Linked DNA regions of Homo sapiens: regions 1, 3 and 4 are each linked to region 2. The links come from fine-mapping of genetic effects on plasma protein levels. A gene starts in region 2. Each other region holds a variant in brackets. All regions are shown on one strand. Distances are from middle to middle. Region 1 has its middle 230 kb from the start of MIR548AM. Region 2 holds the start of S100G (S100 calcium binding protein G). Region 3 has its middle 150 kb from the start of MAGEB17-AS1. Region 4 has its middle 52 kb from the start of MIR548AM.

The links. A credible set is the group of variants that fine-mapping cannot tell apart. PIP is the chance, under the fine-mapping model, that this variant and not a neighbour inherited with it causes the effect. Protein levels are from antibody-based Olink assays in UK Biobank. Linkage for the fine-mapping came from a reference panel and not from the study's own genotypes, which makes the PIPs less certain.
Region 1: its variant is the best candidate, but not a certain one, in a credible set for the plasma level of the S100G protein (UK Biobank, PIP 0.56).
Region 3: its variant is the best candidate, but not a certain one, in a credible set for the plasma level of the S100G protein (UK Biobank, PIP 0.85).
Region 4: its variant is the best candidate, but not a certain one, in a credible set for the plasma level of the S100G protein (UK Biobank, PIP 0.60).

What each region holds. Positions count from the first base shown.
Region 1 is chrX:16,397,923-16,406,237 of GRCh38, forward strand. No RefSeq gene overlaps it. Among named protein-coding and RNA genes, the nearest start is that of MIR548AM, 230 kb to the right of the region's middle. The variant A/G (reference allele first, on the strand shown) is at 4,388.
Region 2 is chrX:16,642,904-16,650,797 of GRCh38, forward strand. It overlaps S100G (S100 calcium binding protein G), which reads left to right and starts at 7,255. Exons shown (of 3, transcript NM_004057.3): 1 at 7,255-7,300. The region is part of intron 13 of CTPS2 (CTP synthase 2); the gene reads right to left.
Region 3 is chrX:16,318,523-16,326,837 of GRCh38, forward strand. No RefSeq gene overlaps it. Among named protein-coding and RNA genes, the nearest start is that of MAGEB17-AS1, 150 kb to the left of the region's middle. The variant T/A (reference allele first, on the strand shown) is at 4,648.
Region 4 is chrX:16,570,628-16,578,942 of GRCh38, forward strand. No RefSeq gene overlaps it. Among named protein-coding and RNA genes, the nearest start is that of MIR548AM, 52 kb to the right of the region's middle. RefSeq lists enhancers at 5,129-5,632, 7,146-7,649, 7,650-8,154, 8,155-8,315. The variant G/A (reference allele first, on the strand shown) is at 4,101.

The DNA.
Region 1 (8,315 bases), 240 kb before region 2:
GTTTGTTACATAGGTATACATGTGCCATGGTGATTTGCTGCACCTATCAACCTGCCATCTAGGTTTTCAGCCCCACATGCATTAGGTATTTGTCCTAATGCTCTTCTTCCCCTTTCCCCCAACACCCCCTACAGGCCCTGGTGTGTGATGTTCCCCTCCCTGTGTCCATGTGTTCTCGTTGTTCATCTCCCACTTATGAGTGAGAACATGTGAAGTTTGGTTTTCTGTTCCTGGGTTAGTTTGCTGAGGATGATGGTTTCCAGCTTCATCCATGTCCTTGCAAAGGACATGAACTCATTCTTTTTTATGGCTGCATAGTAGTCCATGGTGTATATGTGCCACATTTTCTTTATCCAGTGTATCATTGATGGGCATTTGGGTTGGTTCCAAGTCTTTGCTATTGTAAATAGTGCTGCAATAAACATGTGTGTGCATGTGTCTTTACAGTAGAATGATTTATAATCCTTTGGGTATATACCCAGTAATGGGATTGCTGGGTGAAATGGTATTTCTGGTTCTAGATCTTTGAGAAATCACCACACTCTCTTCCACAATGGTTGAACTAATTTACACTCCCACCAACAGTGTAAAAGCATTCCTATTTCTCCACATCCTCGCCAGCATCTGTTGTTTCCAGACTTTTTAATGATTGCCATTCTAACTGGTATGAGATGGTATCTCTTTGCGGTTTTGAGTTGCATTTCTCTAATGACCAGTGATGTTGAGCTTTTCTTCGTACGTTTGTTGGCCACATAAATGTATTCTTTCAAGAAGCGTTTGTTCATATCCTTCACCCACTTTTTGATGGGGTTGTTTTTTTCTTGTACATTTGTTTAAGTTCCTTGTAGATTCTGGATATTAGACCTTTGTCAGATGGACAGATTGCAAAAATTTTCTCCCATTCTGTAGGTTGCCTGTTCACTCTGAAGATAGTTTCTTTTGCTAAGCAGAAGCTCTTTAGTTTAATTAGATCCCATTTGTCAATTTTGTCTTCTGTTGCCATTGCTTTTGGTGTTTTAGTCATGAAGCCTTTGCCCGTGCCTATGTCCTGAATGGTATTGCCTAGGTTTTCTTCTAGGGTTTTTATAGTTTTAGGTTTTACATTTAATCCTTTATTCCATCTTGAGTTAATTTTTATACAAGGTGTAAGGAAGGCATCCAGTTTCATAGTAGGTGTATATGTTTATGGGGTATGTGAGATGTTTTGATACAGGCATGCAATGCATAATAATCACATCATGGTAAATGGGGTATCCATCCCCTCAAGCATTTATCCTTTGAGTTACAAACAATCCAATTACACTCTTTTAGTTATTTTTATTTATTATTTATTTTTTGAGATGGAGTTTCACTCTTGTTGCCCAGGCTAGAATGCAATGGCACAATCTTGGCTCACTGCAACCTCCACCTCCCCAGTTCAAGCAATTCTCCTGCCTCAGCCTCCCGAGTAGCTGGAGCTGGGATTACAAGCGCCTGCCACCACGCCCGGCTGTTTTTATATTTTTAGTAGAGACAGGGTTTCACCATATTGGTCAGGCTGTCTCGAACTCCTGACCTCAGGTGATCCACCCACCTCGGCCTCCCAAATTGCTGGGATTACAGGCGTGAGCCACCATGCCCGGCCTCTTTTAGTTATTTTTAAAGGTGCAATTATTACTGACTATAGTAAACCTGTTGTGCTATTAAATAGTAGGTCTGATTCATTCTTTCTAACCATTTTTTGTACCCATTAACCATCCCCACAAGTCCCCTATGCCTTCACTGCCCTTCCAAGCTTCTGGTAACCATCCTTCTACTCTCTATGAGTTCAATTGTTTTGATTTTTAGGTCCCACAAATAAGGGAGAACATGTGATGTTTGTCTTTCTGTGCCTGACTTATTTCACTTAATATAATGACCTCCAGTTCCATCCATCTTGTTGCAAATGACAGGATCTCATTCTTTTTACGGTTGAATAGTGCTCCATTGTGTTTATGTACCACATCTTCTTTATCCATTCATCTGCTGATGGACAGTTAGGTTGTTTCCAAATCTTGACTATCGTAAACAGTGCTGCAACAAACGTGGCAGTGCAGGTATCTCCTCAATATACTGATATCCTTTCTTTTGGGTATATACTCAGCAGTGGGATTGCTGGGTCATACGGTAGCTCTATTTTTACTTTTTTGAGGCACCTCCAAACTGTTCTCCATAGTGGTTGTACTAATTTACAATCCCACCAACAACGTATAAGGGTTCCCTTTTCTCTGCTTAGGCAACTTTAAATTGTATGTATAACCAGCGTGTGGAGAAGAACCGGGATGAACAATAGAATAAAAGGTGAAATAAGTGATTTGAATGAAGGAGAAAGTAACACTAACAGCCATCATCACCACCACCATCTTCATTAAAATCATATCTAATACTGACTATCTGTCTTATTCTATGCACTATATTAATACTAATTCTATGCACTATACTAATAACTACTGTCAATCAGCTTCTGGGAGTGATATGCCGTCTTAGTTGTTCAGACCCAGCACACTAAACTACTAATAACTAGTGCATAGAATAAGTCATACTAATAACTACTGTGTCTTCTTTATATATAAAATGTTTAGGTATGATTCCTGAAAGGTCGTTTAGACCTGATTTTCAAATGGCCACTCCAATCATCAGAGACACAAGTATCCATCAATTAAGAGAAAACCAAAATCATACTCAGATGAACCTTGGGGAAATGTATCCAAAGCCCTTTAATAGAAGAAAAATTAAATAGCTATGATTTATTGAGCATTTACTCTGTGCCAGACACTGCACTTAACGTGCTGCAAGAATTATCTCCTTTAACTTCACAAGACTCTCAGAAGTCCGATTATTAGCCTTTGGTCCCTTCTGTGTGGAGGGCTAAGAAAGGGATGCAAAGGTTGGGAGTAACTGGATGAAATCTCTCAGAGCCCCAGCCCCATACTCTATCTTCTGTGCACATAAAATGACCAGACTCCTGGTCAGAGACAAAGGACAGCAATAGCCACAGCTAAAATAACATCACGTGCACTGGTTCCCTGAATCCCAGTTTCCACAGGGTGATGCAATGAGGGCCAGACGATGCCTGAACATACATTACAGGTGCATTACAGGAAAGGAGTTCCAAGCTTAGGAAACCCCAACCTTTGATAAGAGGGCTACTAGTAAACCTGCCCTGGAGAGACACATTATCCTGGACAGCAAACAAATCTACCTTCTGCTCTGGAGGGAGACACTCTCTCTACCTTCTAAGGCTCCTCATTATGCAAACGTCCTTGAAAAGTTAGTCTGGAACACAAATCTGTTAATGCATTCGCCCAGATGTGCAGAAATGCAAATTACCGTTGGAGAATTGCCTCCCAACAAACAAATGGTCCAGCAAGGTTTTATAGGATTATTCCAGCACTCCTAGGTAAGTATAATTGTAGGAACAGAAATTAGGATTGTACATGTTTCTAAGCTTCAACTTACTTAATTATTTTGAAAGCCATTGTAGCATGTCTATAGGCTGTATTGTCAAAAATCATTCACCTATTTCGAAGATAATACAGTGCAAAAAATGTTTTTATAAATATTGAGTGCCCTTCCTGACACACAGATAGGCTCTTGACAGAACCCACTTATACCCACTGCAGTGTATATTTAGTCATGGACATCCTAATGATAGGAGAGTTCATCCTATCATTGAGCTCTCAAGCATTCAGTCATTGAACTCATCAAGTGGGTTTTCTGAGAAGAATAAAGTTACTAATGGTGTTGGTGATTAAGTTTGTGAATGAATAAATTAAATCCATCGATACTTTATTAACAACTATTAAGAGCTGCTAAAAGGGTGCCATAGGCCAGGTGAAACTGGTTTAGTTCAACCTTCAACCTATTAGATTAATATCTAATTAACCCTTATTAGTTCCTCTTTACAGATGAGGAAACCCATATAATAAGTATATTTCCCAAGATTACACAGTAGATGGCGAAAAACACATCTATCTCACTCCACATGTAGTCCCAACATGTATTAACAGGACTCTTTCTGATCACCTTTAGGCATATCAGAATACTTTTAGAAACCAGGGACCTTCGTGGGCTCATAGAGAAACTTGAATTTGGATTCTGAACCCATATAAAATGATAACACCATTTTTGTTTCTAAAATAACCACTCTCCAACCAAAAATTGAGGACCCAAAAATGCCTTTTCCCGAATGGAATGGGGGAAAAAATAAGCCGCGGCATTTGTAAAAGCTAGTCAATGATGTATTAGCCTCTGGATTATCATAAAACTAGTTTGGTAATTCTGTGATTGTTATGAAGTTAATAGTAACTAGGGAAAGTTACCCGAAGCCCTCAATCATTTATTTAGTGCTGGCAATATCCCAGGGGGG[A/G]AAAACCCACAAGCAACTATTTAAACCACTTCACATATTCATGAAAAAAAAGAACATGAGTATTTATCAATTAATAGGAATTTCCATCTTTTCAGTTCTTAAACTTAGAGAAAAAATATAGGAAAAATCATAACTATGTTTGCATCATAAATACTATAGTATAACAGCCTCGTAGTTTGATCAAGATGTCATTCTATCCATGTGTGTGAATTCCAATGTGACAAAGTCAAACGATAGCATAAGAGGATTCAATTCCCAAAAAATTTTAAAATTAGAAAAATCCAAAACACATCAACATATTGACACACTTCAATTTTCAGAATTTTGGAGATGTTCATTATTTTTATTCATGTTCATCATAATTATTATAGTGTACCTATGAAGTCTGATGAGCATCCAAATAAAGATTATCAGCTTTTACCATGCTTAAGAATCTATATTGAGTTTGAGATCTAGGCTTTTCTCACTGACATTTTTACAAAATAATAAAGATAAAATATAATAAAACATTCAAATAATGGCACAAGCACTGCTGTGCAAAGATGGAGATGCTTTTAAACCTGATGGATGAATGACAGGTAGCACCAATATATGATGGCTTGAAATACTCACTCATCAGATGATATACTTAAATTTCAATTTGGCTAATGAAAGGCAGTTTAAGGATTTCCTGATGAATAATGTATTAATATGTGGGATGCATAAAACTCAAATTACAAAGGTCAGCACAGATCAAATGCAAGACTTCTGAATTTCCAGGTGTGATGGCAGCTAGCTAGCACTGTGTGCTCCTCAGTTTCCATTATCACTGCAGAACACCCATGGATGCACAGGACATTTTATTTCACAGAAGTCCTGGAAGCTGAGCAAAGCAATCAATGACTTGCCTCCCACTAGTAGAAATTCTGTTGGCCGTAGGGGAGATGAGCTTGACATTAAATTGTCGTATTCACTTCCTAGTCCTTCGAAACAGGACAGAGCCAGAGAGGAAATAGGAAGGAGTGGAATGTAACTGACCCCCCAATATCCACCCCTACCTTGGAGAGAATAGGTCTGAGTCACACCTTTTCTGCAGGAAAACAACCCTCTGAGTCGCTTAGGATTATAGATACCAAGAATTTGGCTAAGACCTGTACCCATCAACTCACTCCCTCAAGTTACAATCTGAGGCAGAAATTATGACAAACCCCAATTGGTCCATGAACATAACCAGAGAGAGAGTAGTATTACCTCATCTTCTGCAAAACTCAGGTCAGGCTAGATCTCTTTCTTGCAAGGATGAACTCACAGGTGGGGAATAAAAGAATTTAACATGAAAAGATCAATAAAAATATTTTGCAACATTAAAACCTGATCACATAGCAGTTATTTTTCAAATGCTGATGTTCCAGGTACTCTGCTTAGCACTTCACATACTTACCTACCTTAATTTTCAGAGCCACCCCATGAGAGAGGCACTGAAGTCCCAGAAGGATAATTAAATCTTCAAAGTCACATGGCTGATTGGTGCCAAGGCTGGGACTCAAATAAAAATTGAAGGTCTGTGCTCCTAATCACGCCCCAGGCTCCTTCCCAGGGAACCAGGGACCTGTGCTTCTCAACTCTCAGGACACATACAAATCCCTGGTTGAAGTGGGGAGGGTGGCAGTGGGGGCAGGGGAGCATGTTATGTTAAAATGCAGATTCTGATTCAGTGAGTCTGGGGTGGAGTCTGAAAATGTACATTTCTAACAAGCCCCTGGGTGATGCTGATGCTGGTGGTGCTTAGACCACAGTTTGAGCAGCAAAGATCAAGAAAGTATGCAACTGTGGGGAAACAGGAAGAAGTTAGGTTCTCAAAAATATGGCAAAAACCTCAATTACGTTTGCACCATCCTTATATATAAGAAAATCTGAACTCTGTGAAGTAGGCAATGAAAGAAGAAATAAAAGCATGCAAGGCTGGCATGAAAATAGAAGGGTGAAGAAAGAGCTGGGACAAATTGCAAAGAATCCAAGGAAACTACAAAGAAAGAAGTATCCACTAGAGCCAACAAAAGAGCAGAATCTGCATTAGGAAACAAATAAAAAATGTATAAGGCAAACTTACACAGCACTCCAAAAATAATGAGGGGAAAGAACAAAAGGATGAAAATGGTAAAAAAAAAAAAAAAAAAAAAAAAAAGATTACAGCAACAGGAACAAAGATACAAGCTTCTAAAAACAGGCATTGTAGAGGGGGAAGCAGGAAAACTGGGGCAAACAGTAAACTTGACGATACAGTACAGGAAAACATTCCTGCACGGAAGATATTCAGACTTAACACTGAAAAAGTGAGGGTAATTTCCCATGGCAGATGCTGTTGGTGCCCTGCTTCGTTTCCCCTCCTGACACTTCAGACTCCACCTGCTGCTACGGTGGACTGTTCCCTGGGCTCCCTGACAGCTCCCTGCTTCAAGCACCCATATCCCTCTGCCTTCGAGAGAGCTTGTGCACCAAGAAGCTCAGATTTAACACCCTCAGATTAAATCAACCAAGGCGGAGCCAGATTCAGTGGATACACACCTCAGGTTCACCTTCACAGGCTGGGACAATTTTGAGGTGTGCTCTACATTGTCTCCCAATATCCCCAATAAGATTGAGCCCCAGTCATCTGCAGTTGTAATCCACACATTCACTCACCCTTTATTGGCTTTTCTCTCTTCCTTGCCCCAATTCCCACTCCCTAACTTGGGTATCCTGGGATCACCTCCCAATTAAATTATTGGCTCCCAAGTCTTTGTCTCAGGATCTGCTTTTCAGGAAACACAAGCTAAGACATGCCCCAAATATGTGAGAGGAAAATCCTTAACTATATTCAAAAGGAAAGAAATTCCACGTTTAATGATGTGTTATTTAATGGGTCAAGTGGCTCCCATGTTTTGAATTCTGGAGCTTACAGGCAGCACTAAAGTGGGCAACAGATGAGTCTTCCCAGACCTCACCCCTTTCACCACTTTCCCCTCCTTTGGGCTCCACTATACATGGTGTATAACATCCAGAATGTCTTAGAGTATGATTCCTATCCTTTGTCTCCCCCTCTTACCTGTCAACACCTCATATACAGAAACTGCAATTTAATGGCTTTATATCCCAAGCATATAGCACAGTATCTTACACATAGAAGGCTCTTGATAACTTGCTAAATAAATGTTGGGTCAATAACTGGGTCCTAGGACTGGCTCTGCCACTGACTAGCTGTGTGACCTTGGAAAAATCACTTAAAGGCTTAACTGGGCCTCAGTTACCTCCATTTATAATATGAGATAACTTGACTCTGTGTTCTCTGAGGTCAAGTTATTATATGAATCTAGATAAGTAAAATTTCTCCCCACTCTCTGATTTCTTTTTTTTTATTTTTGTGGGTACATAGTAGGTGTATATATTGATAGGACACATGAGATGTTTTGATACAGGCATGCAATGTGTAATAATCACGTCATGGAGAATGGGGTATCCATCCGCTCAAACATTTGCCCTTTGTATTACAAATAATCCAATATGCTCCTTTAGTTATTTTAAAATGTACAATTAAGTGATTATTAACTATAGTCACCCTGTTGTGCCACCAAATAGTAGGTCTTATTCATTTTATCTAACTTTTTTTTGGTACCCATTAACCTGCCCCACGTACCCCCCATCTCTGATCTCTTGAGCCTGGTTAATGCAGTATAAAGCTGGCCATACTATAAGGGAGACAGTCAAATCTTTGTGGATCACACTAAGCTGTAACTACGGTATTTTCTAAAATCCTAGCACTTAACAGCTTCTTTTTGTGCCTAAGTAAAATTCTACTGGTGACTATGATGTACCCTTATTGTCCAAGGCATTGTCTATGCCTGTGTTGTCCATTATGGTGGACACTAGTCCCATGTGGCTATTAGGCCCTTGAAATGTGCCTAGTCCCAAA
Region 2 (7,894 bases):
TCTTCCATTGCAAAAGGATTGCCTTTGCTTCCTCTAATTCAGCCTAAATACTGGCTGTCATCTGATCCCCAGATTTGTCCTCTCTTGGAACTGAGCCATATAGTATGAGAAAAATAAAAAAGGATCAATAAGTGATAAAGCTTTAGGAGATGTAAAATCAGCATGTAAGGATAAATATGGCACTAATTAACCTTTACTGATGTTTTCTGCAGCCCATAATAAAAGTGTAATGAGTTCAAGACTTTACAGCATCCCAGGTGCCTTAAACAACAAAGTCTACAGGAGTTAGGTTCTCTTAGCAACAGTGAAATTCCTGACTGGACCTACCTGACCTACCCTGGTAAGCCCAGCTTTCCTTTTGTTCCTCATCGTTGAATATTTCACCTGGAGACAAAGGGAAAGCCTACTCACCAGCAGCTATTTCTATTTCCAGACTCTTAGGCAACATACAGCAATTTCCTCTAGCATTTTTTTTTTCCACTTTGTAGCATCGGGGTTTCATCATGTTGCCCAGGCTGGTCTTGAATTCCTGGGCTGAAGCAATCCGCCCACCTCAGCCTCCCAAAGTGCTGGGATTATAGGCATGAGCCACCACGCCCGGCCTCCTCTAGTATTCTTTACAAGTATTCTCCAATTCATTCCTTTCCTACTGCTCATTAGGTTTTCAAGCCTGATTCTGATTTTGATTCTAAGTCATATTCAAATTGTACATAAAGTATCAAGCAGTTTTACATCAGCATTACTTTCCCTAATGTTGGGTTGCACTGCTAGCTCCAGCAGCCTCCATCACTACAGACTAAACCTAAACTCTTCTGGGTGGCTCTCAGGTCCTACCTCACACAGGAGCCCAGACTAGCCATGCCCTCCTCATGTATTCGAACCTGTAGCTTCTACCACAGCTAGCTGGGGCCATTGTCAATGGCACCTCCACTCTCCTACCCACCACCATACTACACACAGACCACCTCCTTCTCTACTTTTCCCAAGATACCTTCTCCCTCCCATTCCTCATGCTTTAGGGGCCCCCTCCAGTTCCCCTTACTGCCTCATAATTAATGCCATTGTTATGCTCAGCCTACCAAATAAATAACCTATACATCATCAATTCATTTTCAGTAACTCATAGTAGGAGACTGAATAATGCCTCCCCTACCCTAAAGATATCCGCATCCTAGTCCCTGAAACCTATGAATCTGTGGCAAAAGGGACTTTGCAGATGTGATTAAGTTGAGGATCTTTTTTTTTTTTTGAGACAGGATCTCACTCTGTCTCCAAGGCTGGGGTGCAGTGGCATGATCATAGCTCATTACAGCCTCTGACTCCTGGCTTCAAGTGATCCTCCCACCTCAGCCTTCCAAGTAGCTGGGGCCACAGGTGCATGCCACCATGCCCGGCTAATTTTTTGGTATTTTTTTGTAGAGATGGGGTTTCGCCATGTTGCCCAGGCTGGTCTGGAACTCCTGGCTTCAAATGATCCTCCAGCCTTGGCCTCCCAAAGTTCTGGGATTACAGGAATTAGCCACCATGCCCAGCCTGTAAATTGAGGCTCTTGAGAAGGGAAGATTCTGGATTATCAGGGTGGGCCCATTGTAACCACAAAGGCTCTTAAAACAGGAAGGCAGGAGGGTCAGGGTCAGAAAAGGGGATATGACCACAAAGCAGAGATCAGAGAGACTGGAAGATGCTATGCTGCTGGCTTTGAAGATGGAGGATGGCCGTGGGCAAGTGGCCTCTAGAAGCTGGAAAAAGCAAGGAAATGGATTCTCTCGTACACCCTCCAGAAGGAACACTGCCCTGCCAACCCACTTTATATCTCTGACTTCCAGAAGAAATGTATATGTGTTTTAAGCCACTGTGTTTGTGGTAATTTGTTACAACAGCCATAGGAATCTAATACCGTTATTTACTACAAACAGCTTTAACTTCCTCTATTATTTCATAAATGCATCTCCTCTCATAAATTAAGTGTAGGCTCATCAAGCACAAGGATTAGATCTTTTTATTTTCCATCTCCACTGAGGAGTTCGACACAGTGTCAAGTTCAGATCAAGTACTCAATAATGGAATCTCTCAGTGTTTTTTGTTTTTTGTTTTTTTGAGACGGAGTCTTGCTCTGTCGCCCAGGCTGGAGTGCAGTGGCACGATCTCGGCTCACTGCAAGCTCCGCCTCCCGGGTTCACGCCATTCTCCTGCCTCAGCCTCCTGAGTAGCTGGGACTACAGGCGCCCGCCACCATGCCCGGCTAACTTTTTTTTTTTTTTTTGTATTTTTAGTAGAGACGGGGTTTCACCGTGTTAGCCAGGATGGTCTCGATCTCCTGACCCTGTGAACCACACGCCTCAGCCTCCCAAAGTGCTAGGATTACAGGCATGAGCCACTGTACCCGGCCTGGAATCTCACAGTGTTTTAAGTGTATTAAAAACTAACAGGGGAGACTAAGGGATGGGTCAGTGGGCCACAGAGTAGCAGAGGGGTGTCTGAGATACTCATGGATGTCCCAAGTTGCAGGTGAGTCTCTTCAGCAGACGGGAAGGGAGGGGTGGTGCCCTACTCAGAGGCCGAGTACACACTATGCCCAGTCCTGCCTGACAGAGTCCTGCCTCTAACCTGAAGCAGTTTATTTCCCATTTCTGGCTTCCAACCTGCGCTGCTGTGTCACCAAGTAGTGTGAGAATGGAATCTACAATGAGGAAATCAATGAGCAGTCCCATAAGTACGTATGTATTTTTCCAGTCTTTTAAACTTGTTTTTTTCCCCACCAGTAAAAGAAAGCTGCTATGGTTTGAATGCATTCCCCAAAGTTGATGTGTTGCAAGCTTAATCCTCAGTGCAACAGTGTTGAGAGGTGGAATCTTTAAGAAGCAATTAAGTTATAAGGGCTCTGCCCCCATGAATGGATTAATGCCATTATCATTGGAATGGGTTAGTTATCATGGGAATGGGTTCCTGGTAAAAGGATGAGTTCAGTCCCCTTCCCTCTCTCTCACCCATGTGATGCCTTCTACCACATGATGACACAGCAAGAAGGCCCTCACCAGATGCCAGCACCTTGATCTGGGACTTCCCAGCCACCCTCCAGAACTGTGAGGAAATAAATTTCTCTTCTTTATAAATTAGCCAGTCTCAGGTACTCTGTTATAGCAGTGCAAAACAGACAAAGGCCTATATCATTTTCATCAGGAAAAGAACTTTCTTACACCTCAGAAAAAGAACCTTCTTATACCTCCAGATGTAAACCTAACACTTAAGTGTGATACTACCTGTGGTCCTAATGTTAACATACAATGGTTGTCCTCAGAGAAGCCCTTCTCCTGGGAGGGGCATGTGGCACGGTGGTTGAGGGTGCAGGCTGGGCCTGAACTTGAATCCCAGCTCTACTGCTGACCAGCAGTGTGACCCTGAGCAGGTCCTTGGATGTCTCTACAGACTGGGGGGACCAACAGCATCCACTTCATAAAGTTGCAGCAAGGATTTAAGGAGGCCGTGGGAGTTGGGTGCCTAGGTCAGCACACTGCCCATAGTAAAGATACGCACTCAAGAAGCACAGGCTATGGTCAGGAGACCTCTGGGAACTCAACTGCTGAAGGTGAGCACAGGCTGACCCAAAAGACAGTGAGCCTCACAGCCCAGGCAAAGGTTGGAAGTGAACTTTGTCTGAAGGTCCAGGGAAGGTAGACACCAGGTCAGGTGACAAGCAAGCTATACTTTCTGGGAAAGCAGCATTTGAGTATTCAAGGTCTCTTTTAAACTTCAGGATCAAAGATAACAAGAACCCATGGATAGCATTTCACACCCATTTTGTTTTGCAGGGACCAGGTACTAACACTGTACCCTCTTCCTGAAGGTGCTTTTCAAGACATTGCATGCTGTCACCTTCAAGCAGAATAACCCACAGAAGCCTGTGGTGCCCAGAGCTCTTAAAATATGTTACTCTTGGCTTTCCTAGGAAAAATTAAGCCTGTCCAAAGATCAAACAATTGAACAGTGAGGTGATAAATAACCTTTGCCTCTCCATTTTCCCATTACCACCCTTGTGCCTGTCGTTTCCCCCCTTCTCTGGTTTCAAAACGCACTCTTGTGAACACACCCTGTAATTATCACTTGTCTCCATATATTTTTAGTTAATGTTTCACAAGAGTATCTATTAGTGGATTTTTCATGCTTCCAAGTGCAAGTTTACCCTCATGCTTTTAAGTCTATGGGTAAAGAGAAAAATAAGAGACAAGAGATGTGACTGGTAGAAGTGAGCAAGTAAAAACTTAAGAAGCCGCACAGGCTGTTTTTCAAGTTCAAGTTTTGCTAGCATTCGCTACAAGTATAAATTCTGACAATAGGCAGCATTGGGCCCATTCTTTTTTTTTTTTTTTTTTTTTTTTTTTTTGAGACAAAGTTTCGCTCTTATTGCCCAGGCTGGAGTGTAATGGCAGGATCTCAGCTCAACGCAACTTCCACCTCCCGGGTTCAAGCAATTCTCCTGCCTCAGTTTCCCGAGTAGCTGGAATTACAAACATGCACCACCACGCCTGGCTAATTTTTGTATTTTTAGTAGAGATGAGGTTTCTCCATGTTGGTCAGGCTGGTCTCGAACTCCTGACCTCAGGTGATCCGCCCACCTCGGCCTCCCAAAGTGCTGGGATTATAGGCGTGAACCACCGTGCCCGGCCGCATTGGGCTGATTCTAATCAGAAGTTGTCCCTTGAAAGAAGAGATTTGTAGCCTAGAAGACTATTAACCAATACTGCTCCAAAAGTTTTTCTTAGAGATAATTTTTATATATACATACACACGTCATATGTAATATATGGGTGTATTATATAGAACATGTTATCTTTCATCCTATATCGTTACTAAGATGACATATAGTTATTAAAATCATTTCTTCAGATGCAAAAAATAGGCCAGGTGCAGTGGCTCACGCCTGTAATCCCAGCAGTTTGGGAGACTGAGGCGGGCAGATCATTTGAGCCCAGGAGTTGGAGACCATCCTGGGCAACATGGCAAAACCCATGTTGTATTTTTCTACAAGAAATACACAAAATATATATATATGTATCCGGGCATGGTGGCACATGCCTGTAGTCCCAGCTACTCGGGAGGCTGAGGTAGGAGGATCACCTGAGCCCATGGAGGTTGAGGCTGCAGTGAGCTGTGTTCACGCCACTGCACTCCAACCTGAGTGACACAGTGAAGTGGCTTCAAAAAAATAAACAAAAAAACCAGATGCAAAACATAATAAACACCCCATTTGATTTTAGCTCACTAGTGGTAATTTGAGAGAAAAGATGATTTAAGATGCTATTCAACAATTGGAGAGATTTGACGTGGGCTATGATAATGGCATTGTGGTTACATAGGAGAATGTCTTTGTCCTTAGGAGACAGATGCTGAGGTGCTCAGGGGGGAAGCATCTGGATGTTTGTAATTGATTCTCAAATGACTCAGGGGTGGAGGAAAGTATCTGTCCAGAGAAAGAGAAAGCAAATGTGGAGATGTTCGCAATTAGTGAATCTAGTCGAAAGGCAGACTGGTGTTCATTGCACTATTCTTGCCACTTTTCTGTAGATCTGAAATATTTTTTAAAAGATGTTTAAAAAAAGATAGTTCTTGTTATGATTAAGCACAAACGCCTACTTCCTCCCAGGAAAACAGAACATATGTGTAAAAACACTGGCAATTTTCTAAAATCTTGATTAAAATGCATTGCCAAAATCAGAATATTTTTGTGTAAAATCTTATAACTAAAAATAAAATGCCTGTCTTTACTCCAACCAGTGAGTTAATACATATTCTATATTGGTGCATAGCAAAGTCAAAGAATCCATAATAAAAACAAGAAGAATATATACAAGACAGCAAAGACACATGGAATGATAAATGCTCAAGACTGGCGGGAAGCTTTTAAGGAATTCTATTAGATTTCCCATTTGTTCTCCAATGTAAATAAGGCCCTAGAATTTTAGAGCTGAGAAACATCAGGGAGAAATACAGTCCCAATAGTCCAGTCCTCAGTTTGTAGGTGATATAAGGCAGAGTCAGGGAAAATTCTATAAGTGTGGAAGTGTACAAGTGTTTCAAAGCTGTAAAGTGCTCTTAAAATCCACCTGGAACCCCTTCCTGTGAGTTACAATCAGCATTAGATCAATGTCCCTTGGAAATGTCCTACTTATTTCATGGAACTCTTTCCAGTAGAAATCAATCTCCTTGGCAATTTTAAATCATGGCAGTTACAAAAAGTTTGAAGTATTTCCAACTGAACAAGAGTAAGTCGAGTGTTCTCACAAGTTTTTCGAATGATCACGAAATATATTTGGTAAGGAAAAGGATAATGAGAAATAAAAAGCAGACACAGGACCAACAAATAATGAAAGAGCTGAAAAAATGACCATGTTACTCAATATTGATTTGCCAAATAAAACCACAAATTACTGAGTATCTTCTTTCCACTTCTTAAACCTGCTTCTGAAGCAATACTTCCATTCATTCATTCATGTATTCAAATATTTAAGCTGCTAATATGTAAAGACATCAGAAGGACTTCAATGGCCATACCGTAATTTTTTAAACTATGTAATATTGTCCTTCTATGACAGCATTTTTTCTTTTTTACAGACAGGATCTCACTCTGTCACCCAGGCTGGAGTGCAGTGGCACAATCATGGCTCACTGTTGCCTCAACCTCCCAGGCTTAAGGAATCCTCCCACCTCAGCCTCTACAGTAGCTGGGACTACAGGCATGTACCATCACACCTGGCTGATTTTTTAAATTTTTCAGTAGAAATGTCTTGCTGTGTTGACCAGGCTGGTATCAAACTCCTCACCTCAAGCAATCCTCCTGCCTCGGCCTCCCAAAGTGCTGGGATTACAGGCATGAGCTACCGCACAGGGCAGCATTTATTTTTTCTGGATATGAAGAAAGTTATTTTTTAAAGCCTAAATATGCAACTAAATTGAAAAGAATCCTCTATATCTAAGCTTTATGAAATGTGAACTGTGAGCAAATATAATTCTACATTGGAGGGAAAATATAATCTCAGGGGGAAAAAAATCCAAGCTTACGACTCTGAACCATGAAGCAACTGTCGAGATGGACCTTTACTGGATCTTGCCCTTAATTATGGGGTTCATGCAGTCTTAAGCCTGAGTTTCAAAAACCATTAATAATTACCCTTAAATGGCCAACAAAAGGAAATTTTCATAATCAGGGTGGCGTGCCCGTAAAGACTATAAAAGTGTCATGATTCTGCTCAGCTCTTCAAACTCCTCTTTGATTCTTCTAGCTGTTTCACTATTGGGCAACCAGGTTAGTGTGATTTTGGTACTACCTAGAGCTCCTTCTGTTTGCATTAATACTCTGCTTCCTTTTAGAATGGTGTGAAAGATAATGGTCTGGAGAGAAGGTGAGTTTATGCCATCTGGAGATATTCCCTGTAACTTAGAAGCTAGAAGCTGTGGTCAAGTATTCTTCAAGACCACAGCCTGCAGAGTGCAGATCAGGTACATAAAAAGTGTAGAATGTCATTAATTACTAATAAAAATGTTTGGCTCCAGGGACCATCTCCTAACAGATGTACTCTAAGAACAGACATTTAACATACTATCTAAGATGTCTTTTTTTTTTTTTTTTTTTTTTTGCAGCGGAGGCTCGCTCTGTCACCCAGGCTGGAGTGCAGTGGCATCGCACTCACTGCAACCTCCGCCTCCCGGGTTCAAGCGATTCTCCTGCCTCGGTCTTCCAAGTAGATGGGACTATAGGCACGCACCACCACGCCTGGCTAATTTTTGTATAGAGACAGGGTCTCACCATGTTGGCCAGGCTTCCATGGTCTCGAACTCCTGACTTCAAGTGATCCACCCTCCTTGGCCTCCCAAAGTGCTGGGATTACAGGCATGAGCT
Region 3 (8,315 bases), 320 kb before region 2:
ATCTCTACTAAAAGTACAAAAATTAGCTGGGCTTGGTGGCACACACCTGTAGTCCCAGCTACTTGGGAGGTTGAGGCAGGAGAATCGCTTAAGCCTGGGAGGCGGAGGTTGCAGTGAGCCAAGATCGTGCCACTGCACTCCAGCCTAGTGACAGAGTGAGACTCCATCTCAAAAAAAAAAAAAAAAAAAGAAATGTCTTTTAAGACTTGCATTTCTAATGACTGGCTGATTCCACCTGCACCCATGACTTGTGACTCAATCAGTTCTGTGGCCCCCACCTAGAGGCTGACTCAGTGCATGAGGACTGCATTCAACACTCCCATGATTTTGTGCCCAATCAATCAACATTCCACATTTCCTAGCCCCCTGCCCACCAAACTATTCTTGAAAAACCCTAACCTCTGAACCTTCAGGGAGACTAATTTGAGTAATAACTCCATCTGTCGAGTGGCTGGCCTTGTGTTAATAAAACTCTTTCTCTACCACAATAGCACAGTCTCAGTGAATTGGTTTTGCCTTTACAGTGGGCAGGAAGAACTCATCAGGTGGTTACAGTGCTCAGTTCTTTGATTAGAAGAATATATAAAAGTATCTTTACATAAAATTTAAGAGCATGTGCTATTTTAAGAAATGATTATATGAACTGGATTAACTATAATACTGTACTACAGATGTGCTGAGAAGCTGAATTTCAAGTATGTTAGTATGGTAGTCACGTTACATTATGTTATGTTGTGGTAGTAAGTGAACCCTCAAATTGCAGTGGCCTACATCAACAAAGATTAGCTCTCATGTCACCTGACTGTTATATATTATTGCTGGCTCTGTCTTCATTCTGGAACCCAGACAGATAGAAAAGCCATCAGTAGTGAAGGAAATAAAAATATTTCATACCAAAATATATTTCTTTGAGATGGCTGTTTAAAGGGCCTGCAAACAGAAGCAGCCCTGAGAAGCTGTCTTTTGTGAAGATTTGCATCTATAGAGAAAATCTGCATTGATGCAGGCAGGCTTTCTCTGAGGCTTTCCTTTGTCTGGATTTAGAAAATACGAACAGAGAGTCTGACATCTTTATAGGTCTGAAAGAATCATTTACTATCTATTATCTCTGAGGGTTGCTACCTGTGAGGTTTCATCTACATAACAAGACCACCTTTGCTAGCCAGGCCTCCTCTTCTCTCCCTCATAACTAGTCTTACTACCATAACCTGATTTGCCACCATAACCTGTTTTGGGCCATGCTCTGAGCCCCCATTCTTTCTGTAACCTGAAGAAGATATAGAATCTTCTATATCCCATTGAGGGGAGGGTTGAGTAATCACTGTGGTTCTCCCCATACATGTTAATAAATTTGTATGCCTTTTCTCCTGTTAATCTGCCTTTTTTCAATTGATTTCTCCATGAACCTTCGGAAGGCAAAGGGAAAGTTTTCCCTTGCCCCTTACAGTAGCAAAATGACCACTGGCCATTAGACATGGCCATTAAAACATTGCCATTAGACATGACAAAAAGAAAAGGCATGGTGCCTCACATGATTACCTTTAAAGCTTCTGTTTGGATGTGACTCATGTAATCTCCATCTGTATTTTGTTGGCGAATGGAAACCTTATGACCTCTCTGAAGTTCACTAGAGTGGGGATGTATAAATCCTCCCACTGGGCTCTCCCAGTGGGAGGGAAGAAAACCAGACAGACACATTTGGCCATAGTTAGATGTTCTCCTTGGTGTATAACACTTTATAATAGGGCTAACATGGCCCAATTCTATTTCATAGATTCTCCTCCCCATAACAAAAATAGAGTGTAGCAATTATTTAAAAGCCACATGTAGAAAAACCACAATGCACCATCTTCATCATTCATTCAATGGATACTTATTCATTTTGTAATTCACATTTGTGCAGAACCTGTTGGGTTCTTCTTGCCCACCACACAGATAAAGCCAATTCATTGAGACCAAAGTATGGCAGTAGAGAAAGAAAGAGTTTGATAATTGCAGGGCCAGCCAAGTGGAAGGATGGGAGACATTTCTCGAATCTGCCTCCCTAAAAGCATGGAGGCTAGGGTTTTTCAATAATATTTAGTGGTCAGAGGGCTAGGGAATGGAGAATGCTAATTGGTTGGGTCGAGGATGAAATCATAGGGTCTGGAAAGTAACTCAAACACCAATCTTAGGTTTTACAATAGTGATATTAGCTATAGGAGCAATTGGGGAGTTTTTAAATGTTGTAATCTCCAGCTATATGACTCCTAAACCACAATTCTAACCTTATGGTTAATTTGTTAGTTTTACAAAGGCAGTTGCAGTCACTGAGCAACGATGGGATTCGTTTTGGGAAGGAACTGTTATCATCTTTGTTTTAAAGTTAAACTGTATACTAAATTCCTCCCATAGTTAGCTTGGCCCATACCCGGGAATGAATAAGGGCAACTTGGAAGTTAGAAGCAAGATGGAGCCAGTTAGGTCAGATTTTTCTCACTGTTATAATTTTTGAAAAGGTAGTTTCAATTTTCTTCTATGGGCTAGGCACTTTGTTAGTCACAAGAAATTCTTTAGCTACAGGAAGAATCAAACAATCACTTAGAATACAGGGTGAGTAAGTACTGTGCTAGTGGGATGCACAGGCAGAGAAAGGGAATATAACTCAGACTGAATGACTCATGGAAATATTCCCAAATGAGGTGACATTTAAAAATGTTTTTGAAGGTTGGTTAAAGATTATCTAGGGAAAAAAGAAGGAAAACAGCAAGCAATACTTAATGGTGAAACATTAAAGCTTCTTCATTGTGATTGGGCAGAAAACCCAGTGTGCCAACTGTCACGATTCCTATTCAACATCGTGCAGTGCAATGAGGCAAAATAAAGAAATAAAAGGTATGAGGATTCTAAAGGGAGAAACAAAACTATTTTGTAATGATGCAGACATTTTTAAACATTATAGTTGTTTGCATAGATAATCCAAAAGCATCTATATTAGAATTTATAAGTGAACTTAGCAATATTTCTATATATAAAATCAGCATATAAAATACATTGAATTTCTACATACTAGTAACAAACGCTTAGAAAATAAAATGTTTTCAAAGCGATGCCATTTATGACAGGATAGAAACATCAAGTACTGAGGAGGGCAGCCAAGATGGCCGAATAGGAACAGCTCTGGTCTACAGCTCCCAGTGTGAGTGATGCAGAAGACAGGTGATTTCTGCATTTCCATCTGAGGTACCAGGTTCATCTCACCAGGGAGTGCCAGATACTGGGTGCAGGACAGTGGGTGCAGCGCACCGTGCGCGAGCCGAAGAAGGGTGAGGCATTGCCTCACTCGGGAAGCACAAGGTGTCAGGGAGTTCCCTTTCCTAGTCAAAGAAAGGGGTGACAGACGGCACCTGGAAAATCAGGTCACTCCCGCCCTAATACTGCGCTTTTCCGACGGGCTTAAAAAACGGCGCACCAGGAGATTATATCCCACACATGGCTCGGAGGGTCCTACGCACACGGAGTCTCGCTGATTGCTAGCACAGCAGTCTGAGATCAAACTGCAAGGCGGCAGCGAGGCTGGGGGAAGGGCACCCGCCATTGCCCAGGCTTGCTTAGGTAAACAAAGCAGCTGAGAAGCTCCAACTGGGTGGAGCCCACCACAGCTCAAGGAGGCCTGCCTGCCTCTGTAGGCTCCACCTCTGGGGGCAGGGCACAGACAAACAAAAAGACAGCAGTAACCTCTGCAGACTTAAATGTCCCTGTCTGACAGCTTTGAAGAGAGCAGTGGTTCTCCCAGCACGCAGCTGGAGATCTGGGAACAGGCAGACTGCCTCCTCAAGTGGGTCCCTGACCCCTGACCCCCGAGCAGCCTAACTGAGAGGCACCCCCCAGTAGGGGCAGACTGACACCTCACATGGCCAGGTACTCCTCTGAGACAAAACTTCCAGAGGAACGATCAGACAGCAGCATTCGCGGTTCACGAAAATCCGCTGATATGCAGCCACCGCTGCTGATACCCAGGCAAACAGGGTCTGGAGTGGACTTCTAGCAAACTCCAACAGACCTGCAGCTGAGGGTCCTGTTAGAAGGAAAACTAACAAACAGAAAGGACATCCACACCAAAAACCCATCTGTACATCACCATCATCAAAGACCAAAAGTAGATAAAACCACAAAGATGGGGAAAAGACAGAGCAGAAAAACTGGAAACTCTAAAAAGCAGAGCGCCTCTCCTCCTCCAAAGGAACACAGTTCCTCATTAGCAATGGAACAAAGCTGGACAGAGAATGACTTTGACAAGTTGAGAGAAGAAGGCTTCAGACGATCAAACTACTCCGAGCTACGGGAGGAAATTCAAACCAAAGGCAAAGAAGTTAAAAACTGTGAAAAACATTTAGACGAATGTATAACTAGAATAACCAATACAGAGAAGTGCTTAAAGGAGCTGATGGACCTGAAAGCCAAGGCTCGAGAACTACGTGAAGAATGCAGAAGCCTCAGGAGCGGATGCGATTAACTGGAAGAAAGGGTATCAGTGATGGAACATGAAATGAATGAAATGAAGCGACAAGGGAAGTTTAGAGAAAAAAGAATAAAAAGAAACAAACACAGCCTCCAAGAAATATGGGACTATGTGAAAAGACCAAATCTACATCTGATTGGTGTACC[T/A]GAAAGTGATGGGGAGAATGGAACCAAGTTGGAAAACACTCTGCAGGATATTATCCAGGAGAACTTCCCCAGTCTAGCAAGGCAGGCCAACATTCAGATTCAGGAAATACAGAGAATGCCACAAAGATACTCCTCGAGCAGAACAACTTGAAGACACATAATTATCAGATTCACCAAAGTTGAAATGAAGGAAAAAATGGTAAGGGTAGCCAGAGAGAAAGGTCGGGTTACCCACAAAGGCAAGCCCATCAGACTAACAGCAGATCTCTTGGCAGAAACTCTACAAGCCAGAAGAGAGTGGGGGCCAATATTCAACATTCTTAAAGAAAAGAATTTTCAACCCAGAATTTCATATCCAGCCACACTAAGCTTCATAAGTGAAGGAGAAATAAAATACTTTACAGACAAGCAAATGCTGAGAGATTTTGTCACCACCAGGCCTGCCCTAAAAGAGCTCCTGAAGGAAGCACTAAACATGGAAAGGAACAACTGGTACCAGCCACTGCAAAATCATGCCAAATTGTAAAGACCATCGAGGCTAGGAAGAAACTGCATCAACTAATGAGCAAAATAACCAGCTAACATCATAATGACAGGATCAAATTCGCACATAACAACATTAACTTTAAATGTAAATGGACTAAATGCTCCAATTAAAAGACACAGACTGGCAAAGTGGATAAAGAGTCAAATCCCATCAGTGTGCTGTATTCAGGAAACCCATCTCACATGCAGAGACACACATAGGCTCAAAATAAAAGGATGGAGGAAGATCTACCAAGCAAATGGAAAACAAAAAAAGGCAGGGGTTGCAATCCTAGTCTCTGATAAAACAGACTTTAAACCAACAAAGATCAAAAGAGACAAAGAAGGCCATTACATAATGGTAAAGGGATCAATTCAACAAGAAGAGCTAACTATCCTAAATATATATGCACCCAATACAGGAGCACCCAGATTCATAAAGCAAGTCCTGAGTGACCTACAAAGAGACTTAGACTCCCACACAATACTAATGGGAGACTTTAACACCCCACTGTCAACATTAGACAGATCAACGAGACAGAAAGTTCACAAGGATACCCAGGAATTGAACTCAGCTCTGCACCAAGCAGACCTAATAGACATGTACAGAACTCTCCACCCCAAATCAACAGAATATACATTTTTTTCAGCACCACACCACACCCATTCCAAAATGGACCACATACTTGGAAGTAAAGCTCTCCTCAGCAAATGTAAAAGAACAGAAATTAAAACAAACTGTCTCTCAGACCACAGTGCAATCAAACTAGAACTCAGGATTAAGAAACTCACTCAAAACCACTCAACTACATGGAAACTGAACAACCTGCTCCTGAATGACTACTGGGTACATAACGAAATGAAGGCAGAAATAAAGATATTCTTTGAAACCAACGAGAATAAAGACACAACATACCAGAATCTCTGGGACACATTCAAAGCAGTGTGTAGAGGGAAATTTAATAGCACTAAATGCCCACAAGAGAAAGCAGGAAAGATCCAAAATTGACACCCTAACATCACAATTAAAAGAACTAGAAAAGCAAGAGCAAACACATTCAAAAGCTAGCAGAAGGCAAGAAATAACTAAAATCAGAGCAGAACTGAAGGAAATAGAGACACAAAAAACCGTTCAAAAAATTAATGAATCCGGGAGCTGGTTTTTTGAAAGGATCAACAAAATTGATTGACCGCTAGCAAGAATAATAAAGAAGAAAAGAGAGAAGAATCAAATAGATGCAATAAAAAATGATAAAGGGGATATCACCACCGATCCCACAGAAATACAAACTACCATCAGAGAATCCTATAAACACCTCTATGCAAATAAACTAGAAAATCTAGAAGAAATGGATAAATTCCTCGACACATACACTCTCCCAAGACTAAACCAGGAAGAATTTGAATCTCTGAATAGACCAATAACAGGCTCTGAAATTGTGGCAATAATCAATAGCTTACCAACCAAAAAGAGTCCAGGACCAGATGGATTCACAGCCGAATTCAACCAGAGGTACAAGGAGGAGCTGGTACCATTCCTTCTGAAACTCTTGCAATCAATAGAAAAAGAGGGAATCTTCCCTAACTCATTTTATGAGGCCAGCATCATCCTGATACCAAAGCTGGGCAGAGACACAACAGAAAAAGAGAATTTTAGACCAATATCCTTGAAGAACATTGATGCAAAATCCTCAATAAAATACTGGCAAACCGAATCCAGCAGCACATCAAAAAGCTTATCCACCATGATCAAGTGGGCTTCATCCTTGGGATGCAAGGCTGGTTCAATATATGCAAATCAATAAATGTAATCCAGCATATAAACAGAACCAAAGACAAAAACCACATGATTATCTCAATAGATGCAGAAAAGGCCTTTGACAAAATTCAACAACGCTTCATGCTAAAAACTCTCAATAAATTAGGTATTGATGGGACGTATCTCAAAATAATAAGAGCTATCTATGACAAACCCACAGCCAATATCATACTGAATGGGCAAAAACTGGAAGCATTCCCTTTGAAAACGGGCACAAGACAGGGATGCCCTCTCTCACCACTCCTATTCAACATAGTGTTGGAAGTTCTGGCCAGGGCAATTAGTCAGGAGAAGGAAATAAAGGGTATTCAATTAGGAAAAGAGGAAGTCAAATTGTCCCTGTTTGCAGATGACATGATTGTAGATCTAGAAAACCCCATTGTCTCAGCCCAAAATCTCCTTAAGCTGATAAGCAACTTCAGCAAAGTCTCAGGATACAAAATCAATGTACAAAAATCACAAGCATTCTTATACACCAATAACAGACAGACAGAGAGCCAAATCATGAGTGAACTCCCATTGACAATTGCTTCAAAGAGAATAAAATACCTAGGAATCCAACTTACAAGGGATGTGAAGGACCTCTTCAAGGAGAACTACAAACCACTGCTCAATGAAATAAAAGAGGATACAAACAAATGGAAGAACATTCCATGCTCATGGGTAGGAAGAATCAATATCCTGAAAATGGCCATACTGCCCAAGGTAACTGATAGATTCAATGCCATCCCCATCAAGCTACCAATGACTTTCTTCACAGAATTGGAAAAAACTACTTTAAAGTTCATATGGAAGCAAAAAAGAGCCCGCATGGCCAAGTCAATCCTAAGCCAAAAGAACAAAGCTGGAGGCATCACGCTACCTGACTTCAAACTATACTACAAGGCTACAGTAACCAAAACAGCATGGTACTGGTACCAAAACAGAGATATAGATCAATGGAACAGAACAGAGCCCTCAGAAATAACGCCACATATCTACAACTATCTGATCTTTGACAAACCTGAGAAAACCAAGCAATGGGGAAAGGATTCCCTATTTAATAAATGGTGCTGGGAAAACTGGCTAGCCATATGTAGAAAGCTGAAACTGGATCCCTTCCTTACACCTTATACCAAAATCAATTCAAGATGGATTAAAGACTTACACGTTAGACCTAAAACCATAAAAACCCTAGAAGAAAACCTAGGCATTAGCATTCAGGACATAGGCATGGGCAAGGACTTCATGTCTAAAACACCAAAAGCAATGACAACAAAAGCCAAAATTGACAAATGGGATCTAATTCAACTAAAGAGCTTCTGCACAGCAAAAGAAACTACCA
Region 4 (8,315 bases), 72 kb before region 2:
TGGTGCCAGGCGCTGCCTTATTGTTGTTTAACAAGTGACATTGAAAAATGTTTCTTTAACACTGCACATCCCTTTTTACAGAGTCTAAAGCTGTGCTTTTCAATCTGTTGTCACTTACTGATATGGTAGGAGGACAGGGAAGTGCTGGGAGGAGAAGGATGGGGTCCCTGGTGAGGGCTCCACCCCCAGGCCTGTGCCCACGGACCTAGGTGAGGACAGGAATTTCTGTTTTCATGCCCAAATGTTGCATTTCCCAAGACCACCCCGGGCCACCATGCCCCCATCCTGTGCCTATAAAAACCCTGGGACCCTAGTGGGCAGAGACACAAGCAGCTAGGAACACACCAGCAGAAGAGCACACAAGCGGCAGGACATCTAGAGAAGCAGAGGGGCAGAAAAACACACCAGCAGAAGAACACACTGACAGACTCTGGCAAGCCATGGACTGCAGAATGGTGGGATGACACGGAGTTCAGTGGAGGGTGGTCAAAGCAGCCTGACTCCAGGGGAAAACCACCTTCCCACTCCATCCCCCTTCTGGCTCCCCATCCATCTGCTGAGAGCTACTTCCGCCATTCAATAAGGCCCACGTGTGATCCGATTTTTCCAGTACACTAAGGCAAGAACCCGGGATACAGAAAGCCTTCTGTCCTTGCAATAAGACAGAGGGTCTAATTGAGCTGATTAACACAAGCTGCCTGTGGACGGCAAAACTGAAAAAGCGCATTGTAACACACGCCCACTGGGGCTTCGGGAGTTGTAAACACTCAACCCTAGATGCTGCTGTGGGGTCAGAGCCCACGCTCTCCACAACCTGCCCATCTGCATGCTTCCCCTAGGGGTACCACAAGCGGGGCACCGAAGAAGCAAGCCACAACCCCATGGCACACCCTGCAAGGGGGACAAGGGAACTTTTCCCGTTTCATTACCACATGTGGCTATTGAGCATTGAAATGTGGCTAGTCTGAAATTAGATATGCTACAGGTGTCATATTTACACCAAGGTTTGAAGACTTGATATGGGAAAAGGAATGTAACATATTCCATTAGTAAAATTTATATTGATTACATCTTGGAATCTATGTTTTAGATATATTGGGTTAAAATTACTCAATTACTAAAAGTAATTTCACCTCTTTTTTTTTTTTTTTTTTTGAGACAGAGTCTCACTCCGTCTCCCAGACTGGAGTGCAGTAGTGTGATCTCAGCTCACTGCAACCTCCACCAGTTGAAGTGATTTTCTTGCCTCAGCCTTCCGAGTAGCTGGGACTACAGGTGCATGCCACCACACCTGGCTAGTTTTTGTATTTTAGTAGAGACAAAGTTTCATCCTGTTGGCCAGGCTGATCTTGAACTCCTGACCTTAAGTGATCTGCCCGCCTCATCCTCCCAAAGTGCTGGGATTACAGGCACGAGCCACTGTGCCCAACCCACCTGTTTCTTTTTACTTTTTAACACAGCTGCTAGAAAATTTCGAGTAATGCATGTGGGTGACTCACATTATATTTTTTGGATAGCATAGGTCTACAGAGCAGCTAGCGTAAAGAAGGAAAGAGAAAGGGGATCTTGGAGCTCTTCTAAAACCTGGGATGTCTCTGCCTGTTAATAAGAAGAGTGACAGCTTTCACAGTGACTCACAACTTTCAGGATGCTCTGATTCTGGGCAACGTTTTTTGAGAAGCTGGACACACTGGGCCTGAGGAGCATCTTTGGTAAGTGTCTGGGATGCTAGCTAATAATTGGTCTTGCCTGCATTTACAATACAATGATGCATCTACTCAATTCCTACTCCTCTCTCAGGACTTGGTTCAAGCATTGTATTAAGGCCTTCCCCAGCTGGATCATATCTTACAGGTCTTCTGTATTCTCTGCTGCATCATTCAGAGTCAAGCCCATCAATGTGTGTACAATACCTGTGACAGTCTGAACTAATTATTAGCCTTTTCCCTGTACATTTTTCCTTAGTATCTCTCATAGTTATCTTTTTCACTAAATAGAGAAGTAGAATCTCACCTGAAATAAGAATGCCGCTTGAACAATATAGAAAAAAAAATCATTTTTGTGTGATATGTCTTTAGAAGAACCCAGAACAGTCTGGTAACATGACGTCCAGGGAAGGGAACAAAGTAGTTGAGGACAGAGGTTAAAGAGAGACTTTTCTGTGACCTTTTATTTTGGAACCTCATGTCATACATTCTTTTAAAACCTTTTTAAGAGACTATCTTCACTATATAGAAAAAAGGGTTTTAAAACTTGGATTCTACTGAAGCCTTGAAAAAGATTTTCTTGCATCACAGCCTTTAGATCAGCAGTTGACCAACTTTCCCTGTAAAGGGTCAGATAGTAAAAGTTTTAGGCTTTGTGAATCTGTGTCAACTACTCTCCTTTTGTAGCATGAAAGCAGCCATAGACATAAAGGAATGGGTGCGGCTGTGTTCCAATAAAACTTTATTTACAAAAATAGGCAGGCCTGAGCCTGTTAGGGGTAGGAGGTGGGGGAAGTCACATCTTTAAATAACGCCTCCTTTGTATGATACAGAATTTGTAATCATGCTCTTTACTTTTTCATTCTTAAACAGGTTAAAATAAATCTTTTAATTCAAGTAAAGAATTATGCTTAGGGCTGGGCACAGTGCCTCATGCTGGTAATCCCAGCACTTTGGGAGCCTGAGGTGGGTGGATAACTTGAGGCCAGGAGTTCGAGACCATCCTGGCCAACACAGTGAAACCCCATCACAACTAAAAATAGAAAAAATTAACCAGGCATGAAAATGCATGCTTGTAATCCCAGCTACTTGGAAAGCTGAGGCAGGAGAAATTCTTGAACCCGGGAGGCAGAGGTTGCAGTGAGCCAAGATCACACCACTGCACTCCAGCCTGGGCGACAGAGCAAGACTCCATCGCAAAAAAAAAAAAAAAAAAAAAAAAAAAAAAAAAAACAGAAAAAAGAAAAAAAAAGAATTATAAAAGAATTATGCTTAGGAAGTTTGGAAAAAAGGAAAGATAATGGGGGGAACAGGAGAAAAACATCTAGTTTATGAGATAAAACCATAGGGTCTGTGATAGTCCCTCAGAAAAGCAAAGATGTTTCAAAAGCCACAAAAGAAAAATCTCATCCTATCAGAAATCTTGGTATGAATCAATGCTGGCAACAAAGAAGTCACATTCTGGGTTGAAAATTACTTTTGCATCTTCTTACCTCTGAAGACACTGAAACAATTGTGCAAATCAACTCAGAAATTGCTATTCCAGAAATGTAGATCATATAAATTATCCAAATATCAATCTCTTACCATTAAATTCTCTACAGAAGTGATTATCATGACAAGTAGTCTCATCATCCTGGTCTGTGGCATGTGATGAGGTTTCTCTAGTTCAGAGAATCCCCTTGAGAGGATGATTCAGCCTGGAAAACTTTAGTTTCCTGGGATGCTGGCTCCATCCTCCAGGTTCTAGGCTTTTATCTTACTCTATAGAATTCTCCCAGCATATTGACTAAAAGCATAGTCTCCCTCAGAGAAAACAAATCGAAACAATACATCTATCTTCAAAACAATTTCGTGTCGAAGAAAAAGATGAAAGTTTAAGACAACACTCAAGCTTAAAAATGAGCTCTATGATCAAATGGTATCAACTGGATTCCCCAGCTTTTCACTGTTATTTGTCTCAGAGGAAGCAGGTAATACAGACAAAGCCACAGGGATGGAAAGTGGGCCTCACTCAGGAGCAATGAAACTGAATGACGTCCATGGAATTTGCCATCATCTTTTAGTGATATTCAGGGACATCAGTCTCAAAGAACAGAAGCTATTTGTATTGAGTACACATGAAAATAGATGGGAACAATAGACACTGGGGACCATTAGACTGGGGAGAGAGTGTGGGAGAAAGCACAGAAAAACTACCAATTGGGTACTATGCTCACTGCCTGGGTGATGGGATCATTTGTACCCCAAACCTCAGCATCATGGAATATACCCAAGTAACAAACCTGCACATATACCCCCAAATCTAAAATAAAAGTTGAAATTATTTTTTTAAAAAAGAAGCTGCTTGTGATGGGGCTCAGGACATACTACTCCAAAATATGTCACTTCAGC[G/A]TATCAAGTATTTGAAGCTGAAGAAATCTGAGGAAACCACAATAGCAGGAAGGTCTCTCTGACCTTTCCCTGCCCTTCTCCTCTGACGGAGGTCATAAGACCCTAGGTGAGAGGTGCCGTCCCTACAGCTGGAGCAAAGGAGCATTCTTATCTCTGAAGACACAGGGACACAGAGAAGAATGTGAATGAACAAGCCTTGCTAAGTTCCCCCAGTTCACTACCCCAGATCATACTCTTTGCCCTATCATATTTCTCCATTAATCTTGTGACAGGAAAATAAATCTTGGTGCCCCAAAATCACTAAGCTAACGGGAAAAGTCAAGCTGGGAACTGCTTAGAGCCAACCTGCCTCCCGTTATATTCAAAGTCATCCCTCTGCTCATTGAGATAAATGCATATCTGATTGCCTCCTTTGGAAAGGTTAATCAGAAACTTAAAAGAATGCAACCATTTGTTTCTCACCTACCTGTGACCTGGAAGCCTCCTCTCCATCTCCAGTTGTCCTGCCTTTCCAGATGGAACCAATGTTCATTTTACATATGTTTGAGAGGTGACAGCGAGCTGGCAGTCCTCAGAGCCCTCGCTCCCTCTCCGCGCCTCCTCTGCCTGGGCTCCCACTTTGGCGGCACTTGAGGAGCCCTTCAGCCCACCGCTGCACTGTGGGAGCCCCTTTCTGGGCTGGCCAAGGCTGGAGCCGGCTCCCTTAGCTTACAGGGAGGTGTGGAGGGAGAGGCGCGAGCGGGAACCGGGGCTGCGTGCGGCGTTTGCGGGCCAGCTGGAGTTCCGGGTGGGCGTGGGCTTGGCGGCCCGGCAGTCGGAGCAGCTGGCCGGCCCTGCGGGCCCCGGGCAATGAGGGGCTTAGCACCCGGGCCAGCGGCTGCGGAGGGTGCGCTGGGTCCCCCAGCAGTGCCGGCCCACCAGCGCTGTGCTGGATTTCTCGCCGGGCCTTAGCTGCCTTCCCGTGGGGCAGGGCTCGGGACCTGCAGCCCGCCATGCCTGAGCCTCCCCCCGCTCCGTGGGCTCCTGTGCGGCCCGAGCCTCCCTGACGAGCGCCGCCCCCTGCTCCACGGCACCCAGTCCCATCGACAACCCAAGGGCTGAGGAGTGCGGGCACACGGTGCGGGACTGGCAGGCAGCTCCACCTGCAGCCCCAGTGCGGGATCCACTGGGTGAAGCCAGCTGGGCTCCTGAATCTGGTGGGGACGTGCAGAACCTTTATGTCTAGCTAAGGGATTGTAAATGCACCAATCAGCACCCTGTGTCTAGCTCAGGGTTTGTGAATGCACCAATCCACACTCTGTATCTAGCTACTCTGGTGGGGCCTTGGAGAACCTTTATGTCTAGCTCAGGGATTGTAAATACACCAATCACACTCTGTATCTAGCTCAAGGTTTGTAAACACACCAATCAGCACCCTGTGTCTAGCTCAGGGTTTGTGAATGCACCAATCCACACTCTGTATCTAGCTACTCTGGTGGGGCCTTGGAGAACCTTTGTGTCCACACTCTGTATCTAGCTAATCTGGTGGGGACGTGGAGAACCTTTGTGTCTAGCTCAGGGATTGTAAACGCACCAATCAGCGCCCTGTCAAAACAGACCACTCTGCTCTACCAATCAGCAGGATGTGGGTGGGGGCCAGATAAGCGAATAAAAGCAGGCTGCCCGAGCCAGCAGTGGCAACCCGTTGGGGTCCCCTTCCCCAATGTGGAAGCTTTGTTCTTTCGCTCTTTGCAATAAATCCTTCTGCTGCTCACTCTTTGGGCCCACACTGCCTTTATGAGCTGTAACACTCACCGCGAAGTTCTGCAGCTTCACTCCTGAGCCAGCAAGACCACGAACCCACCAGAAGGAAGAAACTCCGAACACATCCGAACTTCAGAAGGAACAAACTCCAGACGCGCCACCTTAAGAGCTGTAACACTCAACGCGAGGGTCCGTGGCTTCATTCTTGAAGTCAGTGAGACCAAGAGCCCACCAATTCCAGACACATGTTGACTGATGTCTCATGTCTCCCTAAAATGTATAAAACCAAGCTGTGCCCCTACCACCTTAGGCACATGTTGTCAGGACCTCCTGAGGCTGTCATGGGCACATGTCCTCAACCTTGGCAAGATAAACTTTCTAAATTAACTGAGACTTGTCTCAGACTTTGGGGGTTCATATTTTGGCAACCACGAAGGGATTATATGTGGAGATGCCCCTGACCTTAGGCAAATCTCCTATCAGTGCTTGGTACCAGCCTGAGCTAACTTTATGGCTCAAACCAATAGGACAATTTGTTGAGGTCTGGAAGCACTCCCTCCAGAGAATCCCCAAAATTTGCTTGAGATCAAAAGTTTATTTTGCTATACAACTCCTTTTTTTTTTTTTTTTTTTTTTTTTGGAGTTTTCCTTGCTTCCAACAAGGAAGGTAGGATTTCCTGTTTCCATGACAATGGAAGGCAGGTAACTGCCTTATAGAGTTTGAGCTCACTCCCAGCAAGGAAGATGAGTTTGAGGGTTTTTTTCCTGCTTCTAGGATGGTAGAAAGCAGTCTTCAGCCTGAGACCCATTCCTAGGTAAGTAGCTGAATTGGGGTTTTGTCTTGGTTAAAGTTTAACTACCAGCTGGTCTTAATTTCTCTTTACCGTTAGAGCGCTCGGTGATCATGTTGGGGGTTTTTTGTTATTGTTGTTTATTCCGGTCTTTCTCCCATCAGATTTGACCAACTCTACCTGACTTGGTCCGATCTGAGTGAGAATTCCAAATTATGGGTAACAAAGCCTCTCTAATTTGGCCCAAATTCCTTGCAGCTGCAAAAGAGGGAAAAAAGAAAACAACAACAACAAAAACAAAAAACAATGCCCTTGGTTTCTGTGTTTGCTTCCTGTCTTAAAAAAAAAAAGTTCTTTCATTTACTTTTCTTTCACCCTACACCTCCTTCCCTTCTAGAGGAGGCTTCTAATGACTTGAACTCCTTTAAAGAATTCAGAACAAAGGTGCCACTTACCTCTTTGTAGGGGGTGTTCTGTTTTCTTTGTGGAGTTTCAAGAGTCATGGACAGATTCTTCTTAGGATGAAAGCTCTGTTTTCCTGTATTGCCTGACCTGACCTCTTTGGCTTTGGAGGTACCAGAGATTACCATGTACTGTGAGAAGATTTGACCTTGGTGTGTGTAATGGCGGACAAGAGCTACAAAGTAGGGGTGGCTGAGCACAGTTTACAGGAAATGGTCTTGGCGGCTGCTGTTGTTTTTTCTCTCCTAGGAACTTGTTAAGGATCTTAATTCTAGTTCAGGCATGCATTCTAAGGGGTCTTCTCTATTGCTTTTTCTCCCAAAATTAATCTCAATTCAGCTTGTCTGTGCTCATTTGCGTGAGGAACTGAGCTATTGTTTTCATAGATAAATGAGAGACTGAGTTTTCTCAGCTCCAAAAAGAAAGGGCATTTGCTCCTCCCAGCCAAAAGGTGCCCCAGGTGACCAGGGGCTTCATGGGAGTGTCTGGGGGGTTAACCCCAGTGGCAGTAGCCCCACAGGGAAATCCCCAATAAAAATTAATTTTTTAAAAAGGCTCATCCAGGAAACACACATAAGAGTTGATCACCAGGCATTTTGAGCCCTCTCCAAGGTCACAGACCTCTGGAGAGAGAAGCTGAGACATGTAAGAGGGTGGAAGCAACTCAGTGGTGACACACTGTGGAGTCCTGCCCACAAGCAGCACGCATTGATCCACCACACAAAACCCCTAGGCCACAGCTCAGTTCTTCCTTTTAAGGAAAAAAAATGTGGGAGACAATCTAAAACTGAGGAGAAAACAAAGAGAATGACCCCCTTTCGAGCACTCCTTAGGTTTTATGGCACCTCTACTTGGCAGAGTTTATGTAAAATAGAAGTAATATGGTTTTTGTGCTCATTTACATTAAGGAAAAAGAGCCCTAAGGTTGACCTGCAAACTATAGAGTTCCTAAGTTCTCTTTTTCTCTATTTTTCTTTTCTGCCTACTTTAAATCTGCTGTTATTTTTCTATTAAGTGAAAACCACTGTTTGGATCAAACAGGTTTTTTTTGCAAGCCTGTGAATTTGTATTTATCTCATGGCTAAAGTTCTCATGGTTAAAGTTCTGAAGTAAAAGCTAGAGGATCTTTGTGTGTGTGTGTGTTTGTGTATATTTGAAAGGCCTTTATAATTTCTATAATTTTATGTTTAATTGGCAATTAAATCCATTTTAATTTCCC